2 separate regions of the Homo sapiens genome follow, and region 1 is linked to region 2. A link means that fine-mapping ties the variant in region 2 to the expression of a gene that starts in the linked region. Tissue or cell type: whole blood. Region 2 holds a variant in brackets; the other region holds the start of a gene. All regions are shown on one strand. Distances are between the middles of the regions.

What was found. PIP is the estimated chance that this variant, and not a neighbour inherited with it, causes the effect.
Region 1: FAM185A starts here. The variant in region 2 is the best candidate, but not a certain one, in a credible set for the expression of FAM185A in whole blood (TOPMed, PIP 0.56).

The regions. Positions count from the first base shown.
Region 1 is chr7:102,746,634-102,751,633 of GRCh38, forward strand. It overlaps FAM185A (family with sequence similarity 185 member A), which reads left to right and starts at 2,366. Exons shown (of 8, transcript NM_001145268.2): 1 at 2,366-3,025. The coding sequence starts at 2,575. It also overlaps the pseudogene RASA4DP. RefSeq lists silencers at 2,056-2,145, 2,186-2,355 and an enhancer at 2,089-2,383.
Region 2 is chr7:102,691,644-102,696,999 of GRCh38, forward strand. It overlaps the pseudogene RASA4DP. Among named protein-coding and RNA genes, the nearest start is that of POLR2J2-UPK3BL1, 23 kb to the left of the region's middle. The variant T/C (reference allele first, on the strand shown) is at 2,136.

The DNA.
Region 1 (5,000 bases), 55 kb after region 2:
CATGACCACGGAAATAGCTTTTTAAAACTAAGATGTGAAAATATCTTAGAAACAAACTCTAAATAAGGAGAAAAAAGTTGTATATAATTTTCTACTTATGAGGTGAATAATTTCATTTTTTCTTCAAAGGTGTCAGGAAAATGGACGTTTTGGTAGAGTGATAAAAGGGCCAGACCTTCTAATTGCTTAATCTTAATGTTTCTGAATCTGAATCCTCATCTATAGTGTGAGGAGAATAATTTCCCTCCTAATTAGTGAGGATACATTGAGATGACGCATGTGAACATGGTTTGACAATTATAATGTCATATGGATGGAAGATACAACTTTTATTAATCACTGTTGATATGTGGACAGATTTGATACTCATTATACTGTTTTTAAGTGTCTATAACTTTAAATATTTTATGCCAATCTTAATATTAATAATTTTCTCCATTTTCAACATTGTATGATCAGCAAAGTAAATTTTCAGTCAATTCTATTTGGTTTTTATTTGAAAAAGTAAAATAATGATCATGCAACATAGAAAATTATAGTTCAGTTGCCAATTCCATTAACTTAGTTTGTCTCAGAAAAGGAAAAATTACCATAGACACAGAATTAACTATTAGAATTAATATTTAATCTAAAAATGTCTAGTGTTTCTACAGAAAATTTGAGTACCTTCTCAACTTCCTTAAACCAGTGCCTTTTTCAAATTTCTTTTCAAAGTTACACCTCTCAATTTTCATAAAAAATAGTTTGAAGATTATTCTGAATAATTATAACCAATGAAACACAAAGACAAGAAAAGAACTATTGCAGTGGGCCCTTGCTGAACCTGAGCTAGCACCTATAATGAGTGAGTCTTCACCAAAAGAATAAGGAGGGAGGAAGGACTAGAAGGACAGAAAAGAGGCAATGATAACTTAAGAGAACACTGAATTTTTAAAAATTTTAAAAAGGTAGTGGCTAGCAGAGAACCTGAGACTTGTACCCATGAGAACTTTAGCCCAGTCTATCTATCACGATAGCCCCAAGAATTCTGGTCATTGTACTTGGGTAAGGGCTTCTATTTTTTAAGGCACTTGCATTTTATGAAATGTTAGTGTTTGCAGGTGTCTTGGCTAAATAATTTAGGGAATACATTTTAGGAGGAAGTAGGGGCACAGAGGGGGAGAGAGAAACCAGGCAGGAAAGAAGAAAAAAAGAAAAAAGAAGAAAATAAATCTTTCTGTTCCCATTATTTTACTGCCTATAGAATTATAAAAGGTAAACACACACACACACACACACACACACACACACACACCCCTTATAGGGTCATTTAGAACCATCTTTCTTCATTTTAAAACTAAAGAAACAGGTCTAGGTGACACAGATGAAGCAGTGGCAGAGCCAGGAAAATAACCTGACCCTTGTCCCTGCTCTTTCCACCGCACCATGGTGACTCTCTTTTTTGTGTCTTTTTTTTTTTTTTCACTCTAAAACTGAGGATCATTTGTAGTCAAAGAGATCAATGCTATTCTCAAAACAAGTTCTGATCTCTCATAATTTTCTTGGTAACTCAGAATCAATGTTAAGTACGTTGAAATAAAAATACAGTTCTTTACACGGTAATTTTGTAGACTGTGCACCACGGTCCCATCCATTTTCTTACTTGATCCTTACAAAAACCCTTTGAGGCAAGGCAAGGAAGGTATTATTATCTACATTTTTAAAGTGAGCAAATTAAAACCCAAAGTAAGGTCACTTAGGGTCAGGACGGAGCAAGTACTCTATTCCTATATTTGGAATATAGGAGGGAATACACTTCCAAAGAGGCAATTCCCTCAAAAAGCACCAATCTTGCTCTTTACTTTCTTACCAAGGCATTCTCCATGCCCTGGAGATGCCCTCACTAAGTTAGTGAAGCTTGGATGTTGACATCCACAGAGGTTACTCCTAGTTTGCACCTAGTTGTCATCTTAAAAAGCGCAGTTTCTTACCCCTTCCCTTGGTCCTGATCCTTATTTAGGCTCCTATTTTTCTCTTTGGGATTTGGCGTCCTGGGTCTCACTCCAAAGCTCCACCCTCTCCAACCAAGAAGTCGCGTGCTTGGTATCCAAGGTGACCACGCAGCTTTACCCGCGTTGCCCCTTCCGTGCTTCCCATTGGCCAGTGGACTCCCATGTACCGCCCCTCCAATAGCCAATGGTCTTGAGACAAAGGGCGCCCGCCTTTCCAGCGATTCTAACACCTACCCTCTTACCCGTGCTCCCCTGCGCATTGCCTCCTGGGAAATGTGGTTTCTAAGAGGCAGAGCTCTGCGACTTAGAACTACCTATCCCGTCGGCCTTAGCGAAAGGGGGTGGACTTAGGCAAGGGGTCCAGGTCAGAGTTTAGAGCTTTCAAATCCCAACTTGCCCCTGGGGATTGCGCGGCTGATGTTTAGAACGCCTAGTCAAGCCAACCGGCTCGCTCTTGTTTCAGCAAACCCTGACTTACGTCTCCTATTTGACTTGAGGCGGCACAGTGGCCAAGTCGATTGGCCGTGGCAAGTGACCCTCCCTGTGGCTGAAGTGTTCTGAGGACTGGCGAGAGAGGCGCGCCATGCTTGCCCCCTGCTCAGGTTGGGAGCTTGGCTGCTTCCGTCTCTGTCTCCGTCAGGTCCGACTGTGGGCTGGCGCTGGGCGCTGGGCTTGCTGGGCTTGCCAAGCCAGGCCGTACAGCTCAGGTGGGAGCGAGCGCTGGCCCGGATCGGAGACTGAGGTCCCTCCGCCTGGCCCGGGGCGCCGAACTCTGAAGGAGTGGACACTGCAGGTGAGCCCGTTTGGTCGGCTGCGGGCGCGGCTCCCGTGCCACCTGGCCGTGAGGCCCCTGGACCCCCTCACCTACCCGGATGGCGACCGCGTGCTGGTCGCGGTGTGCGGCGTGGAGGGCGGCGTGCGGGGCCTGGACGGCCTGCAGGTGAAGTACGACGAGGATCTGGAGGAGATGGCCATTGTGTCTGATACTATCCACCCCCAGGCGTCCGTGGAGGTGAACGCGCCCCTGAAGTTTGGCAAGTGAAGTGAAGTGAAAACGGGTTTGGGTCCCAGGGAACGCACAGTGAACTTAATAAATGTGGTCGACGTGCACTTTTAATTGGTCCTGGCTCTCTAAACCTAATTTACAGTTGGCCCCTTCGGAAATGCACCTTTTCCTCTGTTCTGTTCTTGAGTGTCCGAGTAGTATTTAAAAATTAGGTTCCCAATTATAGAAATTTTATACATCGAATGGAAACATGATTTGGTATAATCCAGGTCAAATTCTATTTCTGGAGCCGCTTGTGTTCTCCTTTATCCCGTTGTCATTAGCAAACTGGCTTATTTTTCAAGGTTGAAGTTTCTTGACAATTCATTCAATGGTATGGCAGTCCATCTACATTTCATCTTGCTCACAGCCTGGGGGTCTGTCCCAAAACAGCCCTGTCAATAGGATGTTCCGGGTATCACCTGGTTTGAGTATTTGGTTTTAGACGGGCGCCCAGCTTCTTACTGTTATATTTCCATTCTTTTTGGCCTAAGTTTTCCATGAGTAGCAAGCTTTGAAGAAAAACACATGGTAAGCCTGCCTAGGAAGCTTCAATAATAATGCCTGCAAGATACCTTTCTTAGCTTTTCCTAAATGGCAAGCCACTGTGTACACACACTTTTCTAGGAAGGGCTCCCCAGACTGTCATTCTTCCTGGGACTGATGGAAGATATTGATGATGATGATGATAGTAATAATAATAGCATTTAGCATTTTTAAGATCATCTTTTATAATGCTTAGAGTTGCCCAAATAGTAGATGCCGTAGTCCTCCCTTATCCACCGTTTGGCTGTCTCAGTTTGTTACCTGCCTCAGCTGTTGTAGGAAAATATTAAGATATTTTGACAGATCACAGTAATATAACTTTTATTACAGTATATTGTTATAATTGCTGTATTTGTTATTATTGTTCATCTCTTACTATGCCTAGTTTATAAATTAAACTTGATCATTGATATGTATACAGGAAAAAACATAGAATATATAGGATTTGGTACTATTTGTGGTTTCAGGAATCAAGTGGGGGGGCGGGTCTTGCCTACTTTAAGAGAAATCATCAATATTTATGTTAATTCCAAATTAAATATCAGCGTTTTTAATTTTTAAAATTTGTATACAGAGATGCCTGCAGTTACATCTTAAATAGACAGCCAAGGATGGCATTTGTAATTCCTTATTTTCCAAACTTGCTTCATATACCACTGCCATTTGTCCACAATCTTGTGGGGTTTTTTGTTTGTTTGTTTTGGTTTTTTTTGAGACTGCATCTCACTCACTCTGCCACGCAGGCTGGAGTACAGGTGCACAATCATGGCCCACTGCAGTCTTGACTTCACGGTTTTAAGCAATCTTCTCGCCTCCACCTCCTGAGTAGCTGGGACTACAGGTGCATGCTACCATGCCCGGCTAATGTTTTTGTTTTTTTGTAGAAATGGAGTTTTGCTACATTGTCCAGGCTGGTCTTGAACTCCTGGGCTTCAAGCAATCCTCCTTCCTCGGCCTCCCAAAGTGCTGGTATTACAGGCATGAGCCACTGCTCATGGCCTAATCTTGTAGTTTTAATAGTATATATTAGCTTTTTCAAAGTTGTTCCCATTTTTAAAAAATTACTTCAAATACCTGTGATATAGTTGCATGGTAATATTTTCATTTTTTAAGTATGAAAGGTTAGACATAGGATTTGAAAACCTAAGTCATGATCATATATACTGGGGAAGAGGCTTCTACAGTCTTTCACAGGAGTACTTAACAGAATCGTAGTCTCCTTTACTTCCCATCTATGTTAGTTCTCTTTAGGTGATTTAGGCCAGTAGAAATAACTGCTCTGTTTCTAAAAACGGGCAGAAAGGCTATTGTTTTTGGTCCCGTTGCTGTGGTAGAAGACCCCTTACCTTTACAGTATGCACTTTCCAGGATTCAGCAATATTACGGACATAACTGAGGAGTTGGGTTTCTAGGTTAAA
Region 2 (5,356 bases):
TCTGGCTTGCATCTCACTGCTTGACCATTGAGAACCTGATCTTGCTTGCCTAATGAAAACTTTAGTAATTGTCTTGTCTTAGCTAACTTTACTGGGTTGACTCCTGCTAACTCATTTTACTGATTTACCTGTAAGTCTGGTTACCAGATGGACAAATTCCCAATCCTACTCCCTTCTGTTTATTTGCCAAGGAATCTACCCAACAGACAACAGTACCCTCTCTCTACCTATATATTAATACATTTTTTGTTGAAAAAGGTATTTTATTTTAATCCTTAAGCTTCCATCTTTAGTCCCCAATGTATTAAAATAGTGATTGCATTACTAAAGAGACTGTTTTACAAGATGCACATTCACCTAAGAGCCACGAGCTTTCCAAAGCCAACCTTCTCTCAAAGGAGAAAATACTATTATTTCTCCTAGTACTTATTTTGAAGAGCAACATCCGTTCAGCGACTATTTAGAAAGCCAGTATCAAAGTTTAGATTATTATTTTTAATATTTAATCAAGTTGCTACAACAGTAGTTAACAATCAATGAAAAATAAAGAGGTGATTAAAATGTATTAACTATGTAATTAAACACATGCACATACACATACAAACTAGGATCTCATTATGTCAGTAAAGAACTAGAAAAGGATAAAGGAGAAGAGAGGCAAATAAACCACACAAACAGAGGGACAGATGGGCCACTGAGGGTAGGGCCACTGCTGCGTTTTCCTCCCATTCCTAGCCTTGGGTTTGGCATATTGTAGATGCTCAGGAAAGATTTTTCAGAATGAGTTAAGGAAGATAATCTCACAGATTGTATGTGAGGAGGTAAAGGACCAATTTTTCTTTATCTTTCTTCTTCTCTGTCCCCTTTTCAACATCCTTCTGACTCCCTCTTACCACTAAGCACAGCTTGTTCAAATAGAGTTGTTCTGACAATACCCCAGATTCCTGGCCAAAATCAATCTCCATGTTTGTCATTTTAAAGATGCCAAGAGGAGGACATCCTAACACAGTGCCTTCTTTCCTCTTACCCTGACCTCTTCTGCAGTGTACCATTTAACTGAATTGAGGGGTATTAATCTACTTTGCAAAGTGGAATATGGCCTGTATTCTTATAATCTTAGCATCAATATTCAATCTTTGTAAATGGATTTAGTTATGTTGATATCTCAAATATTTAAGTGCATTACAAGGTCTTCTTCCATACTGGAAAAGTTTTTAAATTTCCACCCCACTGTCAGAGTAAAAACAATAATAACAAAAATATGGGAACAATAGAACCTATCTGTACTGTTCAATAAACTATCCGTCTCTTTGAAGATTCTTGACAGCCAAGGAAAATCTTGAAAAATTATTATTCTTGCAAGGGTGCCTAGATGTCTGAAGGAAAAGCGAAAACATGTCAATAATAGCAAGATTTGCAGGAAGGTTTATAAAAGAAAATTGGTCATTTTTTAAAGCACAGCCTATAAGTACAGCTGTTAGTGAGGGGTGATAACTAAGGAGAGGATGGGGAAACATACTAGAAATATTTAAACAGAGTGTACATAGTTATCTTTGTTTTAATACACAGTCTACTTTAAAAGTCAAATTGTAAAACCTAAAATAGCAGTGTTTAAATGTGTGAATGTCAAGTGAAATGCGCGCTGAAGCAGGAAACGGAAGATTGGGTTCCAAATTCCACCCCGATGTGTAACCCAGGGCGAGTCTCAATCTTCCAGAATCTTTAAGATGGAAATAGCAATATCTCAAACCTCCTATTACAGAATCATTCTGAAAAGTAAGTTTACATACTTGAAACTACTTCGTAAGCTCCTTGAGGGTGGGGTTCTTATCTTTTCCCCTTTATAACCAGTTACTTAAGGTATAAAAAAATAGAAAATATTTAATTCCTCGAAAAAAATTGAAATGTCATTAGGGATTATCTCAAGAAGCTCATTAGTAACTCTATAGAAGGTCCAACCTACAAAATAAATGAAGCTTTAGTAGCGTCAGCAAATCACCGATACTTTCAGTAATTAAAACTTTAGTTTAATTTTAGGCCAGGTGCAGGGGTTTACACCTGTAATCCCAGCATTTTGAGAGGCCGAGGTGGGTAGATCACTTGAGCCCGGGAGTTTGAGACCAGCCTGGACAACA[T/C]GGTGAAACTCTATCTCTACATAAAATACAAAAATCAGCCAGGCCTGGTGTTATGTGTCTGTGGTCCCAGCTACTCCAGGGGCTGAGGTGGGAGGATTGCTTGAGCCCAGAAGGTAGAAGTTGCAGTGAGCTGAGATTGTGTCACTGCACTTCAGTCTGGGCAACAGAGACAGACTTTACATCAAAGAAATTTATTTAAAAAACCAACATTTATTTATCTGGTACCAGCCTTAAGAGAACAAAATATATAGAAAATAAAGCATCTTTTGAATATGTGAATATCCTCATAAAAAAAGATAATTTTACAAGTATGAAATTAGGTAAACAATGGCAGCATCTTTTTTTAAATACACAGTGGTAGACCGTGTTGTTAAATATACATAGGTATCAAGTTGCAATTCTTTCAGAAAGCATTCTGATTACTATATCAACAACCTACCGTGTCTACTACACCTCTGGCCAGAGACTTCCCCCATAGGCTCAGATCCACATACTGGACATTCCCTTCAGACCTGTTGCTTCTTCTGAACTCTCATGTATGGTGCCATAATTTGGCTGATTTCCTAAATCAGAATGCCAAGCATCAATTTAGAATCTTTTCCTCACCCACTCCATCCACTCAGACACTAAGTCTATAGAATTTTATACTTCCTTAACATCTCTCCTAAATGTATTCACTCCTTTTTTCCTCATTGCCAATGCCACTGTGCAGTCTCTCTTCACATCTTCATCACTGAAACGGCATTCTAACTGGTGAGATGGTAGGAATGGAAAACACAAATTCAAGAGATATTAACAAGAGAGAACCAACTGACAGAACCCAGGAGCAGAGTTCGGTTCCGGAGAAGGATAATGGATTTAGTTGTGAGTATGTTTAGTTTGAGGTACTTTGGGGTCATCTACATGAAGATATTCCAAGTATGTGCATACATGGGTATGGGCAAAGAAACCAGATTCATAGTGGACCCTGTGTATATGGATGCAATATCCCCTTTCATGTCTTACTGCCTTAAAAGCCTTTCTAGACCGTCTCATCCCACAGCAGTCAAGCCTCCCTTTCCCTTCTGATAACACTGCTTGTATCCTCTGGGTCCAAAATCATATGCCTTTTGTTGACATTTAATATTTCAATCTTCTTGTTCACAAATAATGCTTCTAAAGAATAGGAACCTTTTTATGCTTTATGTCCATAAATTCTCATGGTATCTAGCATAATCCAGCACACAGGAGGTGCTCAAAACCAAGGAGGAGTTGAAGGGATGAATTTCAGTAGCTTTAGTAATAATAATTATAAACATCTAGCACAGTGCCTGGCACATAGTGAATGCTGTATCTTTTATCTTTTAAATAGATTAAGACTTAATGTCCAAAATTATTGTTCACAAGGTTCTTGACATCTTAATACTCACCAAATCTGACATGCAACTGAAACTTGGACACAAATGCTGCTATTACATATTTTGTAAGAAGTACAACCACTCATAGTTTTATATATAACCTGTTTTCGTGAAAAGGTCATATATTAACAAACTTAATCCATCTTCATCATTGCCCATGATGATTGGTACACATCCACACTCTACTTTTAGTTTCATATTCTATTTTGATTCGTAGTTTTACTTCCTCGGTGTTTCCCTACAATGTTTGTTCTCCCTTTTATGCCTCCCAAATGCAATGCTCCTATGCCTCCTTTTTTCCACCCCTTGGCTAAGTCAGGTCAAAGACTTACTTAACAATGATTGGAACAATAATTATTTTCAGGAAATAAAGAGAAGGGAGGAGATGCCTGGCTCTTGGTAAAAAGCAAAGAGCCAATTATTTCGCTTAGGCGAAATAATTTAATGTTTTGATTTTGGCTCACAGCATTAAGACAAAAATGATTTTACGGCCTCCAAGTCGTGGAAAAGTTCAGCATCTGACACACTGACCCTTGACAAGTGAGGCCACATTTATAAATCAGTGCTGTTTTACATAAGCACATACAGATAGAAGTAGAAATCCTAACTAGGGAATACCGTGAAAGCTATCACTTGTATTAACCCTGGACATGTGACAGCATCTAACATAATACCCATTGGAGTGTATGCTGGTTCAACCTCTTTGGAAAACTGATTGAAGGTCTTTACTAAAGCTGAATATAAACCTAGACTATGACAGATTAACCCCACTCCTGTGTATATACCCAAGATAAGTTCATTCTTAAGTACAAGGCATGCATAAGAATGATCACAGAACTTTATTCATTATCTTCAAAACAGGAAATAATCCATTTTTATAAACAAAATAGAATGGATCAACAAATTATGGTATATTTACACAGTAGTGAGGTAGGAGGCAGAACTCGACTTTGGAGGTGGGGCTTGGACATCACACCAAATTGAGGACTAGCTAAAAGAGGTCTGAGGCAGAAGCACCTCCCCCATTAGACACCAGTGTGCCATGTTAGTTTACTGTTGCCATGGTAACATCAGGAAGTTACTGCCCCTTTCCATGGCATCAACCCGACAACCTGCAAGTTACCAACCTCATTCTAGAAATTTCTGCATAAACCAGTCCTTAATTTGCATCTAATTAAAAGTGGATATAAATTTGAGTGCAGAACTGCCTCTGAGCTCCTATTCCAGGTACACTGCCTATGGGGTATCCCTGCTCCACAAGGATCAGAACCTCTGCTGCTGCAGTTCACTGCCACTTCAATAAAAGTTGCTGTTTAACATCACAACCCTCTCAAGGGCAAGCCTCAATTTGGGGGCTTGACTGTCCTGTATCATCAGGATACTAAGAAGCAATAAAAAAAGAAATGGAACTACCACCACGCATAATGCTATTAATGAACCTCACAACTATAAAAGTGAGCAAAAGCAGCCAGACACAAAGAAAAACATACTGTATGACTCCATTTAAATGATGTTCAAGAAGAGACAAACTAATATATGATAAGCCAGTAGAGTGGTTATCTTGGGTGGGAGCAATGACTGGGAAGGTCTCAAGGGAGACCTCAGGTTCCTGGAAGTAGATCCTGATCAGACTGAGAATATGGTGGGAGAAGAGATAAATCAATGAGATACATATTTAAAGGAGATATTTAACTCTCAAACTGACAAAGAGAATACAGATGATTGGGAGAAGAATGACAAATTCAGTTATGGACATGTTGGTTATAAGCATACATAAAAAACCTGATCTGTACACTTAATATTTGTGAGGTTTACTCTATATGT